Homo sapiens: one gene and its partner. The protein of the gene in region 1 purifies or fractionates together with the protein of each later gene. This does not show direct contact. Each region holds a gene or a part of one and is shown in the gene's direction. Other genes may lie near its edges.

Region 1 (7,000 bases):
GATAGGGCAGTTGTGTTTTTTGTTTTTGTTTTTGTTTTTTTGAGACATAGTCTCACTCTGTCACCAGGCTAGAGTGCAGTGGGGCAATCTCGGCTCACTGCAATCTCTGCCTCCCGAGTTCAAGCAGTTCTCCTGCCTCAGCCTCCCGAGTAGCTGAGACTGCAGGCGTGCACCACCACACCCAGCTAATTTTTGTATTTTTAGTAGAGACGAGGTTTCACCATGTTGGCCAGGATGGTCTCCATCTCTTGACCTCGTGATCCGCCCTCCTAGGCCTTCCAAAGTGCTGGGATTACAGGCGTGAGCCACCACACCTGGCCTGATAGGGTGGTTTATTTATTTTTATTTTTATTTATTTTATTTATTTATTTTTGAGACGGAGTCTCCCTCTGTCGCCCAGGCTTGAGTGCAGTGGCGTGATCTCGGCTCACTGCAAGCTCTGCCTCCCGGGTTTATTTACGCCATTCTCCTGCCTCAGCCTCCTGAGTAGCTGGGACTACAGGCGCCTGCCACCATGCCCGGCTAATTTTTTGTATTTTTTTTAGTAGAGACGGGGCTTCACCGTGTTAGCCAGAATGGTCTTGATCTGACCTCGTGATCCGCCTGCCTCGGCCTCCCAAAGTGCTGGGATTACAGGTGTGAGCCACCGTGCCCAGCCAATAGGGCGGTTTTTATAGTTTGAGAGTTGGGGAAGGAACACTTTATTGTGAAGATGTCACTGGACTGCCACCAGAGAGAAAGCTTAAATTGGTCTAGACTGTAGTGTCAAGACTGCGTGCTTAGGTATATACTTTTAGGGAAAAGCTGTATCCACTGAGAGATGACATGGTTGAAAGATACAGTATAGGCTTTAGAGTCTGACAGATCTGGTAACTGAGCTACAATTTCTTCTTTGTAATACTTGCCTGCAATGTAAGCTCTATGAAAGTAGGGGCTTTGTGTTGTTCACCACCTCACCCCCATCTCCTAGAACAGTGGTAGGTGAGCAATAAATATCTGTTGAATGGGGCCCAGTACGGCGGCTCACGCCTGTAATCCCAGCACTTTGGGAGGCCAAGGTAGAGGATTGCTTGAGCCCAGGAGTTCAAGACTGGTCTGGGCAACATGGCGAAATGCCATCTCGACCAAAAACATAAAATTGCCAGTCATGGTGATGTGCGCCTGTGGTCCCAGCTACTCGGGAGGCTGAGGCAGGAGGATTGCTTGGGCTCAGCTCAGGAGGTCGAAGTTGCAGCCAGCCATGTTTGTACCACTGCACTCCAGCCTGGGGAAGAGAATGAGACCTTGCCTCAAACAAACACATTGTACCAGTACTATCAGTAGTAGCATATGACTGAAATAACAAGGCTAGATTTTCAGTGTGGCTTATGAACTGATTTTGACAGCACCATTGTTTGAATGCTACATATATAATCACCTCCCCTTTTTGAAAATTTAGGCTTACTAATTTATGCTCACCATTTATACATGAGGAGAGATACATTCACCTCTTTTCAGTAGGCACAGTTAACTATTAACTGTCTCTTCTAATATATGCCTCTTTTGCAGTGATAAACATATTTCTGCTTTTTCTAAGTGTGATACATGTTTTGTATTTGTTTTTCTCTCTACTAATGATGTAAATTGTTTTGGGAGGTTAACTGCTTTGGAATAATTAAACAGCTTTATCAACAAGAGTAACTGATATCAGAAATTAGATTGATAGGCCGGTTGTGGTGGCTCACGCCTGTAATCCCAGTGCTTTGGGAGGCCGAGGTAGGCGGATCACCTAAGGTCAGGAGTTTGAGACTAGCCTGGACAACATGGTAAAACCCTGCCTCTACTAAAAATACAAAAATTAGCTGGGTGTGGTGGCAGGCGCCTGTAATCCCAGCTATTCGGGAGGCTGAGGCAGGAGAATCACTTGAACCTGGGAGGCATAGGTTGCAGTGAGCCGAGATCATGTCATTGCACTCCAGCCTGGGTGACAAGAGTGAAACTCTGTCTCAAAAAAAAAAAAAGAGATTGACACCCCCAATTCAGTGTCAAAAGTCTTATCTTGGAAAGGGTATAATTTCCAATTAAGACAGAGAATTTTTTTTTTTTCACTACAACAAAATTATGTGACTTTTCTCACCCTTCTCTAGATATCTAATTAGCCTGCAAGCTAACACTCTAAAGACATGAAACAGGCTGGGCTTATGTCTGTAATCCCAGCACTTTGGGAGGCTGAGGTGGAAGGATCACTGAAGCCCAGGAGGTCAAGACCAGCCTGGGCAACATGGTGAGACCCTGCCTCTACAAAAAAATTTCTAAAAATTAACCAGATATGGTGGCGTGTGCTTGTGGTCCCACCTACTCAGGATGCTGAGGCAAGAGGATCACTTGAGCTCAGGAGATTGAAGCTGTAGTGAGCTGTGATCACACCACACACCACACACTCCAGCCTGGGTGACAAAGGGAGACCCTGTCTCAAAAAACTGGAAAAAAAAAAACAAGATATGAAAGAACAGATCATTTCCCTTTTCCCTCTCTTGTGTTTGAGTTTCGTTTGTAAATATCCTTAATTATGTGACTTGAGGATAGGGTTAAAGTCAAATTACCACTTTTTTTTTTTTTTTTTTTTTTTTTTTTTTTTGTCTTTTGGAAACAGTACGGTAGTCGGAGCACCAACAATGAAGTTCAACTTACGGCTCTGCTGCTTGCTTCCTTGCTTGTCTGCTTGCTTGATTGATTGACAGGGTTTTGCTCTGTTGCCCAGGTTGGAGTGCAGTGGCATGATCATAGCTCACTGAAACCTCAAACTCCTGGGCTCAAGAGGTCCTCCTGCTTTAATCTCATGAGTTGCTGTGATTACAGGTGCATGCCACTGCACCCGGCCTGGCTTTACCATTGTAAACTTCGAGAACTTACAAGTTATCTGTCATGCCTCATTTCTCTCACCTGCAAAAATGGAATAATTAGTGCTACTCATAGTAATAGCTAATATGTATTAGGTGTTTGCTATATATACCAGTCACAGTTCTAAGAATTTTATTTGTATTAACTCACAATCCTCACATCAACCCTATGTATTGCTAGTATTATGCCCATTTACAGGTGAGACAACAGTGACAGAAACAGTAATTTGCTAAAGATTGGTGGAGTCAGGATTAGAACTTAGTCTGACTCTAGAGTTTATGCTCATAATCTCCACCTTCATAGTTTTTTGTTTTTTTTAATTTAGCATATAATCAAGAAATAGAGTAGTTTTGAAGATTAAATAAAATCTATATAAAATGGCTGTGACAAGCATTTACGGTATTAAGTACTACAGTTAGCTTCGAGTTTACAAAGCATTTTGCACACATTTTCTTTGATTGTCATAGGAATAACCAAATATGCTTGTGACCATCACTGTCCGGCAGGAAACAGGCACACATTTGGTCACTTTCCCAGTCATGCAGCATGTGTGCAGACAGTGCCCTGGTGTTGCTCCTCCATATCTAGATCATGTGGAATTTGAAGCATCACATTTTGAGAAAATTTAGTAGACATAAGTTGTTTTGGCCTGTCCAGCATCCAATCCAGGTTCTTCTGGGGATAACAGCTCAATTTTGCTTTGGAGAACAGTTCATCCCTGACCAACTAGGTGGTAGGCACATGGCCCAGGTCAGGCCAACAGATGTTAGGCAAATAGATGCTTTCCTCCTTTAATTTGAATCTTAGGTTGAATGACACAGTAACAAAAGTTCAATAAACAGTTGCAGCTCCTTCATCACAACCACAGGCTAATTCCTAATATCTGGGCACTAGAGCTGCTGTTGTTTTCAACGAGCTGAGTCTTCAGCTTTTCCTTGGTTTTATGTCCTACTACATATCCTTCCAATACATTCCTGTCTTTCATAACTTAAGTTACCCAAAGTCAGTTTTGGTGGCTTGCAGCTGAGACACCTTTAACTTTTACATGGCATGAGGTCATGTCATGTAAGAGTTAAAATAGGCCTGGTGTCGTGGCTCACGCCTGTAATCCCAGCCCTCTGGGAGGCCAAGGCAGGCGGATCCATTGGGCTAAGGAGTTTGAGACCCGCCTGGGCAACATAATGGGAACCTGTCTCTACAAAAAAAAACTTTAAAAATTATAAATAGCTGGGCATGGTGGCATGTGCCTGTAGTCCCAGCTACTTGGGAGGCTGAGGTGGGAAGATTACTTGAGCTTGGGAGGTCAAGGCTGCAGTGAGCTGTGATCGTGCCACTGTACGCCAGCCTGGGTGACAGAGCAAGACCCTGTCTCAAAAAAAAAAAAAAAAAAGTTAAAATAATCAGCTAACTTTAACCTGAAGAGGAGAGAAATCTTGGAGAAGATGTGGGTATCTTCAAATGTCTGAAGTATGTAGAATACAAAGTACCCCTAAAAAGACCAAAGAGTAGATATTACTAGCAAACAGATTTCTGCCCACGTTAAAGCCTAAGGCAGGGCTATCCACAGGTGACAGACTGTCTTGGTATGTGGAAATAGATACATCCACTAAATTGTTCAAGCCAAGACAAGATGGTCACCTGGGAGGAGTAATATGGGTTTAGTAATCTAATGGGGACTGGGTGTGGTGGCTCATGCCTGTAATTCCACTGCTTTGGGAGGCTGAGGCAGGATGATCGCTTGAGGCCAAGAGTTTGAGACTACCCTGGGCAACATAGCAAGACCAGCATCTCTACAAAAAAATAAGAAAAATTAGCCAGGCATGATGGTGTGTGCCTGTAGTCCTAGCTACTTGGGAGACTGGGGTGAGAGGATTGAGCCCAACAGTTTGAGGTTATAGTGAGCTGGAATAGTGCCACTGCATTCCAGCCTGGGTGACACAGCAAGACCCTGTGTATATTAAAAATAATAATATGGCCGGGCACGGTGGCTGATGCCTGTCATCCTAGCACTTTGGGAGGCTAAGGCGGGCAGATCACTTGAAGGTGGGAGTTCGAGACCAACCTGGCCTACATGGCGAAACCCCATCTCTACTACCAAAAATACAAAAAATTAGCCGGGTGTGGTGGCGCATGCCTGTAATCCCATCTACCAGGAAGCTGAGGCAGAAGAGGAACCCAGGAGGCGGAGGTTGCAGTGAGCTGAGATCACACACTGCACTCCAGCCTGGGTGACAGAGCGAGACTCTGTCTCAAAAAAAAACAGAACAAAACCAATAATAATAATCTAATGGGTTGTTGTACTGAATGAACTGTAAAGTTCTCTCCAATTCTGAGATCGTGATTCTCTGATTGAAATCTAAATCTGCAGACTCCGAGACCTAGAGTTCTTTTTAGAAGATTTACCTGCTTTTCCTCACTTTTCCAACCTAGTCTCTTATATTCCCGCTTCACCACCTATGTGCTGCTCTTTGTTTCGGACCTCTGCTTCCATCAGCTCCTCACCTTCTTCAGGTGTTTGCTCAGATTTTTCTTACTGAGCCTTCCCTGACTACCTAATTTAGAATAGCAGCTCCTGAAAGTGCCTATGGTTCTTCCTGCCTCATTTTACTCTGTAGCACTATTCATCTGACATACAGTGTGGTCTCTTATTAATTTTTTAAGTTACTTCTTTCCCCTCTAGAATGCTGGGACTTTCAAAGAAGGGATTTCTATCTATTTTGAGCACTTCTGTGTTCCCGACACTTAAAACAGTGCCTGGTACATAATAGGCACTCAATAAACATATGTTGATTGAATGAGTATTTCCTCAACACAAAGTCACCATTGGGTCTGCTTTGTGTTCTAGGAGAATATCTAGCTCATGCTGTCCACTTCGTACCTTTTCTCTGTTGCTTCCCTTACTCGCTGGTGCCTTTCTCTTTTCCTCTTCTCTTTGGATCACAGCATTTCAAGACTAGAAGTCTGAGATCACCTCTTCATAAGGACCAGAGTCCCTGTGTAACACAGCTAGTTAATGAAAGATGTGGGGTGGAGGGTGACTGACTGTTGGATTGTTTATCTCTGTTAAACTGTGGTCTCCCTAAGTCTTGCTCAGTTCAGGCCCGTGCAGTGCCTGCTGCAGCATATGCATATCCCTCAGTGAGTTATTAAGTAAATATCTTCCTCCTTCATGAAGGCTTTTCCATATCAACCTGTAGTTATCTCTTTATTTCTTTGAACTTTGGTAGTATTTGTGGTCTCTGTTCTTATTATTAAGGCAGGGTCTCACTTTGTCACCCAGGCTGGAATGCAGTGGCACAATCTCCACTCACTGCAACCTCCACCTCCCAGGCCCAAGCAATCCTCCCACCTCAGCTTCCTGAGTAATCTGGGACTACAGATTTGCACCACCACGCCCAGCTAATTTTTGTATTTTTTTGTAGAGATTGGGTTTCGTCATGTTGCCCAGGGTGGTCTCAAACTCCTGGGCTCAAGTGATCCACCCTCCTCGGCCTCCTAAAGTGCTGGGATTATAGGTGTGAGCCATCGTGCTCGGCCTGGTTTCTCTTATTAACTGGCCTTGGGTTGTTTGCCATTTTATGTGTCTGTCTGGTCAATGAAATTATAATCCCATGGACAAAGACTAAATGTACCTACTACAGAACCTAGTCCTGAGAGGCAGTATAAAGTAGTGAAGTGCTGTCCAAGAGAACTTTATACAGTGCTGGAAATGTTCTTGTATGACTATTAACATTTTTTTAATGCTGTGTGTGTATTTGTATGTGTGTGTGATTAAGTAATTACACTTATCTGCACCACCCAGGAATAATCAGTAAACATTCTGGCATTTATTTCTTTATTCATCTATTAATTGTACATTTTCTAGCTTTTTTTAACCATGAATATCTATAATTTTTTTTTTTTTTTTTCCTGAGACAGGGTCTCACTCTGTCACCCAGGCTGGAGTGCAGTGGCACTATCTCAGCTCACTGTAACCTCCGCCTCCCGGGTTCAAGCAATTCTCCCACCTCAGCATCCCGAGTAGTTGGGATTAGAGGCATGCCCCATGACACCTGGCTAATTCTTGTATTTCTAATAGAGATGGGTTTTCACCATGTTGGCCAGGCTGGTCTCGAACTCC
Region 2 (9,852 bases), on another chromosome or scaffold:
GTCTCAAAAAAAAAAAAAAAAAAGCTTAGAATAAGGGTAAGACTCCACAATGTTGGCTATAATTGTTGAGGTGGGAGTGAATTCCCTCCCCATGAGAAAAGCCTGCTGGGGTTCCTGCTGACCCCACCCCTCCTGTCCCAGCTTCCCCGTTATGGAAGGTGTATTGATCCCCTCAGCAGGACTCAGTGACCTTCAGGATCCAGCCCTCTGGTTAGAATTAGGGGAAGGTGGCAGAATTCCCAGCCATCCCTAGAGGCTCTAGTGGGGTCTGCAGGGTGGTGTGGCTCCCAAGGGTCCCTCCTGCCACCTGTAGTGCACCCAGGGGTTAAGGGCCCTCTCCACCTCTCCCTCGTTGTTAACGCTGCCTTATTTCACAGCTGACTGCTCCTCTGGAAATTGGAATGAGGATGAACTCCAGACAGCTGGAAAAGTACCCGGCCACCCTGGAAGGGCTGCTGAGTGAGATGCTTCCCCAGCATGGTACGGGGAGGGCGGGCATCTCTGTGGCTTGGCCGGCCTCCGCCCACCCTGGCGTTAATACTCCAGAGGCAGGGTTTCAGGGTGGCAATTTGTTTGGCTGCTTTGCACTTGAGAATGTGGAGCCGTCTTCTCCCTGGGCTATGCTGTGATACCTGCTGGTGGCTGCAGCAGTTCTCCAGGGAGGCGGGTCTCAGGCTGGGTTCCCAGCTACCCACCCCACTCCCCTGCTCCAGATATTTTCATTCCCTTCCACAACATCACCACAGGGTGGCTGCTCCGAAGGGAACCTTGGTGAGGCTTTCCCTTCCCCCATTCATTCTGCAGATTAAAGTCCTGAGCCCCATTTGGCCTTGCCCAGTTCAAGGTCTGCCCGAGTTACCTGAGCAAAGCTACATCTCCTCTGACAAACAGCCACTAATTACTTCTCATAGTCCCCAGGAGGAGAGGAGAGACTCGAGGAAGTGCTGTTAGTGATGGAGAAACTGGGAGGTTAAATGACTTGCCCCAGGCTACAGACAGCTTGCAGGCTCCTTGCAAAACTTCCCACCTTCCCGCCCAGCCTGCCCTTGTGCCCCCTCCTCCCTCCGACCTGCAGGCAAGTTTTAGAGGGCAGTTTCATAAGCAGACCTGATGATGGTACTGAGCGCAAACCTCTGCTTTTCTCCAGCAGCCAAGTGATGGCCACGCTGGGGAGAAGGTGGACAGATTTGGGAGGCCCCTCCTGCCCAAGTGAGGCCCTGGGAATTTACAGAGCCTGCCAGCTGGGCTTGGAAGGAAAACACCCTTTCCAAAGCAAATTCCCCTCCAGCAAATAAAGCATGAAATATACAGAAATGACTCTTATTTAATATTTTAATTCCCAAAGGGCAAACTCAGGTCGCAAGAAAAAGGGGGGGAAAGTAAAGCTCAGAGAAAGTTGGCCATAAATGATGCTTACATTAGCATTGTGTGCCTTTTGTGAGGTCTAAGTTCAAATATTAACTCAGATCCAAATAAGTGGAAGAGTACCACTGGCCCTTCCATTATAGGTGAGGAAACTGATCATTTTTTGCCCACACACTGAGTCAGTGACAGAGTGAGGACTGGAATTCAGGTCTCCCGGGTCTCGGTCCATTTCTAGTTTACTGACTAGCTCAAGGTCTAACGGGCCAGAGAATTTTAGGGCCTCCGCACTCAACCCCTTGCCAAGTAACTTCCAACCAGCCCTTTAACCTCAATGAGCCTGTGCAAAACCAAGGTGGTAATATCTGCCTCGAGATCTGGGATGGAGGCACAAGCAAAGAGCAAATTACTATTAGCACCTTGTGACTACCAACTCCAGCATCCGCAGCAAAATTACACAGCCAACCCACTTATTTCTGCCTTCTAAACAAAACTGGATGGGAAATTTCATTCCAATTTAATTTTACATTAATGAATGTTCATGTATTTATAAACTGGGGCCACACTGGAACTGCAGCTCCCTCCATCCATAGGTTACCAGCAATTAGATACAGTGTCCATTCTGCATTTCCACCCAGGCTTAGCCACAGAAAGTAGTTACCAGAACAAGAACTCCACTGCTGAACAAGGCACCCTCATTTGAGGTACTCTGAATTCTCCTGAGAAACACTCAAACCATCCATGGGCTCCCACCCCCGCCACGCTGAACATTCACACGCATTTCCAGCACATATACCGATGAGCCCCAGAGCAGGTGCAGGTTCCCGGGAAATGCTGCCAAGATGCCCGGTAATAGAGAGAGAGGGCTGCAGCAGAAGGGCATGCGGGGGGCAGCGGGGGAGACACAGAAATCTATAAAGCCTGCTGCTGGGAAGATCTGGATCCAAGGCTCCTCCTTGCCCTTCCGAGCTCCACCACGCCAGTTCACCCCATTTTCTGTAACACACTCCAAGAAGCAGAGAAACGAGATGCTCACGGTGGTCCCTTTCCCCGTGGAAAACGCATTTTGTGTCCTTCCCTCACCCTCTGCTGGAATCTGCCTCTGTAGGGAGACCGCCTTCCCCTATCACCAGAGGGGGTGCCCATTTCTGGGTTGGGGGGGAGCCCAGCACTGGCTGGGGAATTTTCCCTGAGATTCTGGGTGTTGAAGAGCCTCTCACTGAAATAGACACCCACCATGGAGGGACATGGGGCCCACAGGAGACTCTGCCCAGGAGGTCTGCACTGTTTAGGTGGGAATGGGTTCAGCAACTACAGCACTGGGGAAGGGAGAGGGTGCTGTCCATTCTGCAGAAAAGCCCCGTTCAAAGCTCAGCATTGCCGCCCGGCAGCCCCAACCCTCACCCCGCGGCCTCTGATGTGCTTCTCAGTAATGAGCCGCAACAGGGACCCAGCTACCACCTACATCTGTATGCACAGTGCCCTGGCTGCTTGTTTAGATGTGTCGGCTCCTTTCTTCTCTCGTTTTCCTCCTCCTGCCACTGTTCGATTTCTCACAATTGGCTCAAATAATTCTTTTTTCACCAACAAGCTCCTCCAGTTTCCAGGACAGCCGACTTGATTGCTTATGGGATATCCACAGCTTTGGAAGAAATTAAAATTGGGAGGAGGTTGGGGAGGATTCTGTGAGCTGAGTGAAGAGAAAATGACTATGTTTTCACAAAACAGAAGAAAAGGAGACATGCTCCTGGTTAAAGCAATAGAATGAGTAGGACCAGAGACCAACCAGGATCAGAGACAGGGAGGGTAGCCAGAGTAACCAGGAGAGCAAAGATGCCATTCCTCTTCACATCTCACCCAGGCTTATCCAGCAACATCTGCAAGAATCTCTCCAGATATCTGGCAATTACAGAGAGGTACGGATTACCCCATGTTCATCTGGAATGTACTTTACACTTAACAGGACTACAGGTCATTACAGTGCAACTTGAACCTAGCTTCACAAAATGGAGATGATGAGGTATTTTCTTGGTAACCACATCGGTGTGATTTTAGCATTACTGCGCTATGTGGATTTGCCATGAAATTGAATAGTTAAAAGCAAAGAGTAATTGCCTGATATCTGTATGCTGTAATTTAGTGTAATCTAATCATGGACAAAGCCCAAAAGAAAATATTCTCAAAGCATTACATTTTTCTTCATACACAATTTGTTATTGACATTCGGTAATATATTCCATGCCTTTGAAGGAACTCTTACTCATGGATATCAAAGTGTGAGAGCAGTCAAAAGAGTGAGAGATTTGTTTAATTTTCAACAGATTATGAAATACCATTCTGGCATTTCTCTGTGACTCCATTTTCCCCCTTAGCTGATGCACCCTCAGACCTAGAGAGAGGAAAAGAGTGTCCTCCTCTTCCATAAGGCACTGAGATGGAGCAGTGAGAAGCTGGGTGTTCCTGGGTCATTCCAGTCAAAATATGAGCCCCACATGGCCCCCACTTTTCAACCACAATCTCCCGGTGCCCTGCCCCCACTGTAATGCCACCTATAATGTAGTTTGAAGGAAGCCCTGAATAGCTGAGGCAATACGTGAGGCCCTCCATGAGGTGGATCAAGGACGATTCCGTGGTCCCTGAGTATCTTTGAGGACCTGATAAATGTGTGCAGGGCTTTTTGCAGGAGGACGAAGAGAATGGAACCCACTAAAAGATTTATGGCTGTGATTATTATAAGGCTCTGCCAAGACAGAGAGAGGTCAACGGGACGGAAGGGAGTATGGCAGCCCCCCGGGAATCCAGAGCGTGCTCAGAGCAGCCCTTCACCTCTGATAAATGTGTGGATGTGGTTACTAAGTAGATTTAGATATTGGAGCTTGTTTTTCCTCTTCTGCCTTTAATACATCAGGAAGACTGACCACAGCCTAAGCTGCTGCTCACCTTAAAAAAAAAACCCACAGCAAAGTGATGAGAAAGGAGGGCATGCAGAGCAGCCTCTGACTTTGCAATATTGCCCTTTTCTTTACAATAAGCCTTCCTGCCATGGACAGGCCCAGCAGGAGAGCCAGGCTGAAGGCACAGAAAGGCTGGCTGCCAGAAGCCCTGGCAGGTTTCGTGGGTAGCTCCCGAAGGGGCAGCAGTGGCAAAGAAGAGCTGAGGTCGAGCCCTTCCAAGTGGAGGGCAGCATGTGGATGGTTGTGTGGAGGAAAGCAAAAAGCAACACGCCAACTTCACTAAACCAAAGAGGGGCTATAAATCTGGGCAGGAACGTGACTGGAGCTGGGAATTCAGGATGAAATGGAAAGGCCCAAAAACTGGGAGGAACGCCTGACTAACTTGTGAGGTTCCTTCTCAGAGGGGGTGGGGAAGGGGAGCATTGATCAGCAAATTTGCAGTTAAGTGGTCACTGGGTGCCCCTTGGTGCACATCCAAAGGCCTGCCTGTAAGATCCTGCAAGACAAGGCCATCCACAGCCAGAAGCCACAATGGAGGTAAAAGGGCTGACCATGGGTGGCCAAAGGCCACAACTCCAAGCACAGTGGGTTCTACACCACAGGGAAGACAACAGGGTTCTGGGGGAGGGGCTGTGGGCCACTTGACCCTACGTGTGTGGAGCGGCAGCAGTGTCCCCAAACACAAGGAAGCTGACAAAGCCCACATTGCGTGCCACCACTGGGGGTGGCTCCAGTTCAGTCCATATTTTTAAATCGCCCTGAGATCCATTGTTATAAAATAGACCATAACTCTGTGAAATGCTGTAACGATAACTTTGTTTAAGCATTAGTTTCAAGCCCTCTTAGAATACATGGGGCCAGTACTGATGCCGAAAGGCTCATTCTTTATATATTGAACCGCACAGCTGCAAGGAGTTGCACAAATGTTACCAACTCATTTGTCATGCAAACAGTGCTTCAGAAAGAAATAAAATACTATTATGTGGTATATGTGTTAGGCAATCACTATATCAAATTCATGGCATTCTGTGCAAACACATGCAGGGAAAAGGAAAACAACACTTGGTGAGAGAAATCACACCACATGGGAGCAGCTAAGTCAGGGGAGATGGGGAGGCTAACAGTGGAAGCTGACCAAGCCGAGGCTGTCATTTTCCCAGCAATTGTGGCCAGTGTTGAATACCCCTGAGGTGGAGCAAGTGGCAGGAATGCAAAACCCAGACAGAGGAGCATAGCATTGCCCAGGGTGTCAGGGAGGGGAGGGAATAAAGTGGGGAATGGGCAAGGGGGCTGTTGGGACAGATACGGGGCAGTTCCAGGGAGGAGGGGCCTGGGGGAAGGGGAGAATGGAATGGCAGGGGTAGAAATGGATGGAACCCATTGGGCCGGCAATAAATGTTTGGGAATGGGAGTTGAGGGATGTGGAAGGAAGATTATAAACTGGTTCTATTTCCAGTTGCCACATTCCCTTGCTTCCCTTAGGGGTTTCCTGCTAAGAGCCTTCATGTAACCAAATCACCTGCCCTGTGGGAGGCTCTACACAGCACTGACACTGCAAAGATGTGGGTTAAGTATAAACACGCATGAACGTGTGCCAGGCACTGTCCCAAGCACCTTAGCCAAACTACCTCTTCTAATCCTCACAGCAACTCTATTGAGGTTTACTGGCAAATAGGCTAACAATGTTAATTGAATATGATCACACATCTAATAGTTGTGAGTAGGGATTTGAAATCGAACTGTCTGGCTCCAAAGCCCACAACCTAAACCACCAGTGAGGCTGCAAGACCGTGTATCTCTGGAGTCTTCTCTCTCCCATGTCTCCTTGTAAAAATCCCATTACGCAGACACAGGCCCTCCGCAGAGAAGCCTCAACTGCCCATTCGAACCCAAGGGCATTTTGCTCCTCTGCCTCCACCATGGATGCTGCGTCTCCTCCAGGCTGGCGCTCCTTGGGGGCCAGTGTCTGTCCTAAGGCAGGGATCGCACCTACTTGGTGCTCAGTGTCGCCCAGTTAACAAGCCCGAAGTCGGGACAGGGTCTTGGAGCATGCCTGGAGTGTACTCTAAGACCCAAATAAAACCGGATCACACATCAGTCCCCAAGCCCAGAGAGGCAAATCATCCTGTCTCTCCATTCGTGGCAGTGGCTTCGTTCACCATTAAGCAATTCATCTATTAAATCAACGCTGACTTTACTGAACGCTTACCACCTGCCAGAGGCAGAGCTAGGGTTGGAGGACTCAGAGATTAATACCGCTTGATCTAACAAACAAAGGGAAGTGGGAGAGCGGAGAGAGAGAGAAAAACAAAACAAAACAAAACAAAACAAAAAATTTAATCCCCCTTGGACCTTCCCACCATGGCGGCTCTAAGAGCCACGTCAGACCGCCTCATCATGGCCGACCAAAGGCCAAGTGCAGACCTTCCCAACATGGCGACCGACCTTCCCATCATGGCGCGTGGCCCCGCCCGCTCCGCCGCGCCTGCGGGAGGGAGCAGTTCCGGGTGCGGTGCGCGCCAGGGGCGGGCGGGGGGCGGCGTCCTGGCCATGGCCGGCCTGTCGGACCTGGAACTGCGGCGGGAGCTGCAGGCCCTGGGCTTCCAGCCAGGACCCATCACCGACACCACCCGGGATGTCTACCGCAACAAGCTGCGCCGCCTGCGGGGCGAGGCCCGGCTGCGCGACGAGGAGCGGCTGCGGGAGGAGGCCCGGCCGCGGGGCGAGGAGCGGTTACGGGAAGAGGCCCGGTTACGCGAGGATGCGCCGCTGCGCGCCCGGCCCGCCGCGGCCTCTCCGCGGGCGGAGCCCTGGCTCTCCCAGCCGGCCTCGGGCTCGGCCTACGCGACCCCTGGGGCCTACGGTGATATCCGGCCCTCCGCGGCTTCCTGGGTAGGGAGCCGCGGCCTCGCCTATCCTGCCCGCCCGGCGCAACTCAGGCGCCGCGCCTCGGTCCGGGGCAGCTCCGAGGAGGACGAGGACGCCCGGACGCCCGACAGGGCCACGCAGGGCCCGGGTCTCGCGGCCCGCCGCTGGTGGGCAGCGTCTCCCGCCCCGGCGCGGCTGCCTTCCTCCCTCCTCGGTCCCGACCCGCGCCCGGGCCTGCGGGCGACTCGAGCGGGCCCTGCTGGCGCGGCGAGGGCCCGGCCTGAGGTGGGGCGCCGGCTGGAGCGCTGGCTCTCTCGGCTTCTGCTCTGGGCCAGCCTAGGGCTACTGCTCGTCTTCCTGGGCATCCTTTGGGTGAAGATGGGCAAGCCCTCAGCGCCGCAGGAGGCGGAGGACAACAGTACGTCCTGGGCCGGCGCAGGGGAGGGCCCTGGGCGCGCGTGTGTCCGCCGGAGGACCCCCCGTTCCTGTCGGCGCCAGGCCGCGCACTTCCGGCCTTGTCAGCTGCCTCTGACTGTCTTCTCATTTCCAGGCCTGCCTTCTTCCAGCTGTGGGAAGAGAGGGCCAAGGCTCCTGCATCTGCAATAATTTCTGCCTTCACTTTCTCCTGTTCTCCTTTTCTGCCCCAGCCCTCCCTTCTAACGTCTCCCTTTCAATCACAAGCTGTAGTCACTGCTCCTCCAACCTCTGGTTTTCTCCCTGGAGAGGAAGCCACACCCCCCTCTAACAGATTCACCCCATCCGTTTGGGTTCTTCCCTTTTGACCTCTGGCTTACACATTTAGTGCCTGTTTGAAGGCACTCCAGATTTCAGTGGCCCACAGATAGGATCTGGTTGGGGGTCCCACCTTTGTAGCACCAAAAAGTCCACTCTCCACTTCTTTGAATCACAGGGCCGCCGCTTTGTCAACAGGAGAATCTACCAGCCTTGCTTGCCAGACAGGTTAAACTGATCGCAACTGGAGGCCCTTATCATTGCTTGTAGCACCCTCATGGAGTGTGTTAAGAGAGAGACTACGACTCAAGGATGCTCACAGCCATCCTTCTGGCCACATTTAAGTTACATGGTTAGATATGCCAATGAGAGGTCTGCAGGATACAGTATGTATCCGGAATAGCTGAGGATTGTGTGTTTTCTGAAAGGAAACATAGAGATCATTTCATTATACATTTAGGTATAAAGGGCCACTGTAGTTCACCAACTTTTAATACTCTTTACAAAGCACGAATGTGACTAATACTGTTCCCAGCTTCCAGCCAAGGCCACATCCTTTCATGCCTAGCAGGAACTGCCAAAATACAGGAAAAAGCTAAAGTATGTCTTAGCTGGTGTGGCAGATGGATGTTTGGGAGTGTACAAGTCTGTGGGCAAGGGTATTAACAGACTCGTGTGCAAACACCCAAATGATTTCCCCACTATGAGAGCATTTATCAACTATGTGAATAGTTTGTCGACCTGCTAGAGAAATTAAGGAGACCTGGGAGTGTCATGGTACTATAACTACACTGGTGATGTCAAACAGTATCACACTGGTACTCACTGCTGAGATGCTTTAAGACAACAGCGCTAGAATGTATGCTGGTATTTACCTGGACTTCCCCTCCCATTACGGTGTTAATCTCTGTTTAACATATCATTGTTTACAAAACTCCTATATTTTGTTTTGTTTGGGCCTAACTCCCTGAGTTAAGCAGGGAAGGCCCATTTGATCCCGTTTTACAGACGAGGAGACAGAGGTTCAGAGTGGTTGAGTTGCCCAAGAAACTTGAGCTAATCATTTTCAGCTGGGACAAGGACCCAGCTATCGTAATTCCTAATCCAGGATTTGGATACCCTTACATTTTGCTGTCTGCATTTTAAAAGTGCCTTCCTTAGATGACATCTTTCTAATCCCCACCCTTGGCTTGGTAATGCTTTACTCCCTCCAAATGTTGTGAGTAGTCTCTTTTTGTATTCCTTTCTCAACCCACACTTAATTTCCTCTGTGTTTCTTTTCTTGGTCTCAGTGAAGTTATTGCCAGTGGACTGTGAGAGAAAAACAGATGAGGTGAGTTTGAGTTTCTCTGGTTTTTATTATTCTTCCTGAGGATATTAGCCTCCATCAGGAGGTAAACTTCCCCAGAAAAAGAATAGGATCATTTTCAGGGAGTGCTTCCTGTAATGTACCAGAGTCACATTGTGTTCTGTGATGTTCTTGTCAGGCTCAATTGTGGCAGTGAAGGAATACTTGAAATAGAATTGACCTCCCAAAATCCAACCCTGGGCTTGTTATGGACACTTTCCCATCAAATGTAGCATCGGGGACTTTGATCTGCCTGAGTCAATCTAGGGGGATGCAGTAGGTTGTTGTTGAAGGACCCTCAAGCTCCCTGGCACTGGGAGGAAGGGCCGGCGTTTCTAAGCATCAGGAGGCCAAGTTCTCAATTCCACATTCTCTGTCTCCAGTGGTGCAGCTGTGGCTCTGAAAATGCTGTTCTGATTTGAAACATAGGGAGTTTGTTTGGAACACATCTTAAGTGGAATTAGCCCTCTTAGTCTACATTTAGATTTGTTTTATGAAGCTCTAATATGGCGAGCAGCCCCATCCATTTATGAATCATGAAAGCAGCATTATCAAGGAGCTGGGATGCTGCTTCTGGTGACAGTCTGG

The links.
Region 2: the proteins of SGSM3 (region 1) and LEMD2 purify together in Homo sapiens (affinity purification with mass spectrometry; 2 studies listed by BioGRID and IntAct, with this or other methods). This does not show direct contact.

What each region holds. Positions count from the first base shown.
Region 1 is NC_000022.11:40,373,594-40,380,593, forward strand, and holds part of SGSM3 (small G protein signaling modulator 3), read left to right. Parts: intron 1-7,000. UniProt on the Homo sapiens protein: May play a cooperative role in NF2-mediated growth suppression of cells.
Region 2 is NC_000006.12:33,786,131-33,795,982, reverse strand, and holds the start of LEMD2 (LEM domain-containing protein 2), read left to right. Parts: upstream 1-6,852; 5' UTR 6,853-6,866; coding exon 6,867-7,602; intron 7,603-9,040; exon of another isoform or gene 9,041-9,208; coding exon 9,209-9,249; intron 9,250-9,852. Other genes in the region: MLN (promotilin isoform 1 preproprotein), read left to right, coding at 378-480, 1,148-1,158. UniProt on the Homo sapiens protein: Nuclear lamina-associated inner nuclear membrane protein that is involved in nuclear structure organization, maintenance of nuclear envelope (NE) integrity and NE reformation after mitosis.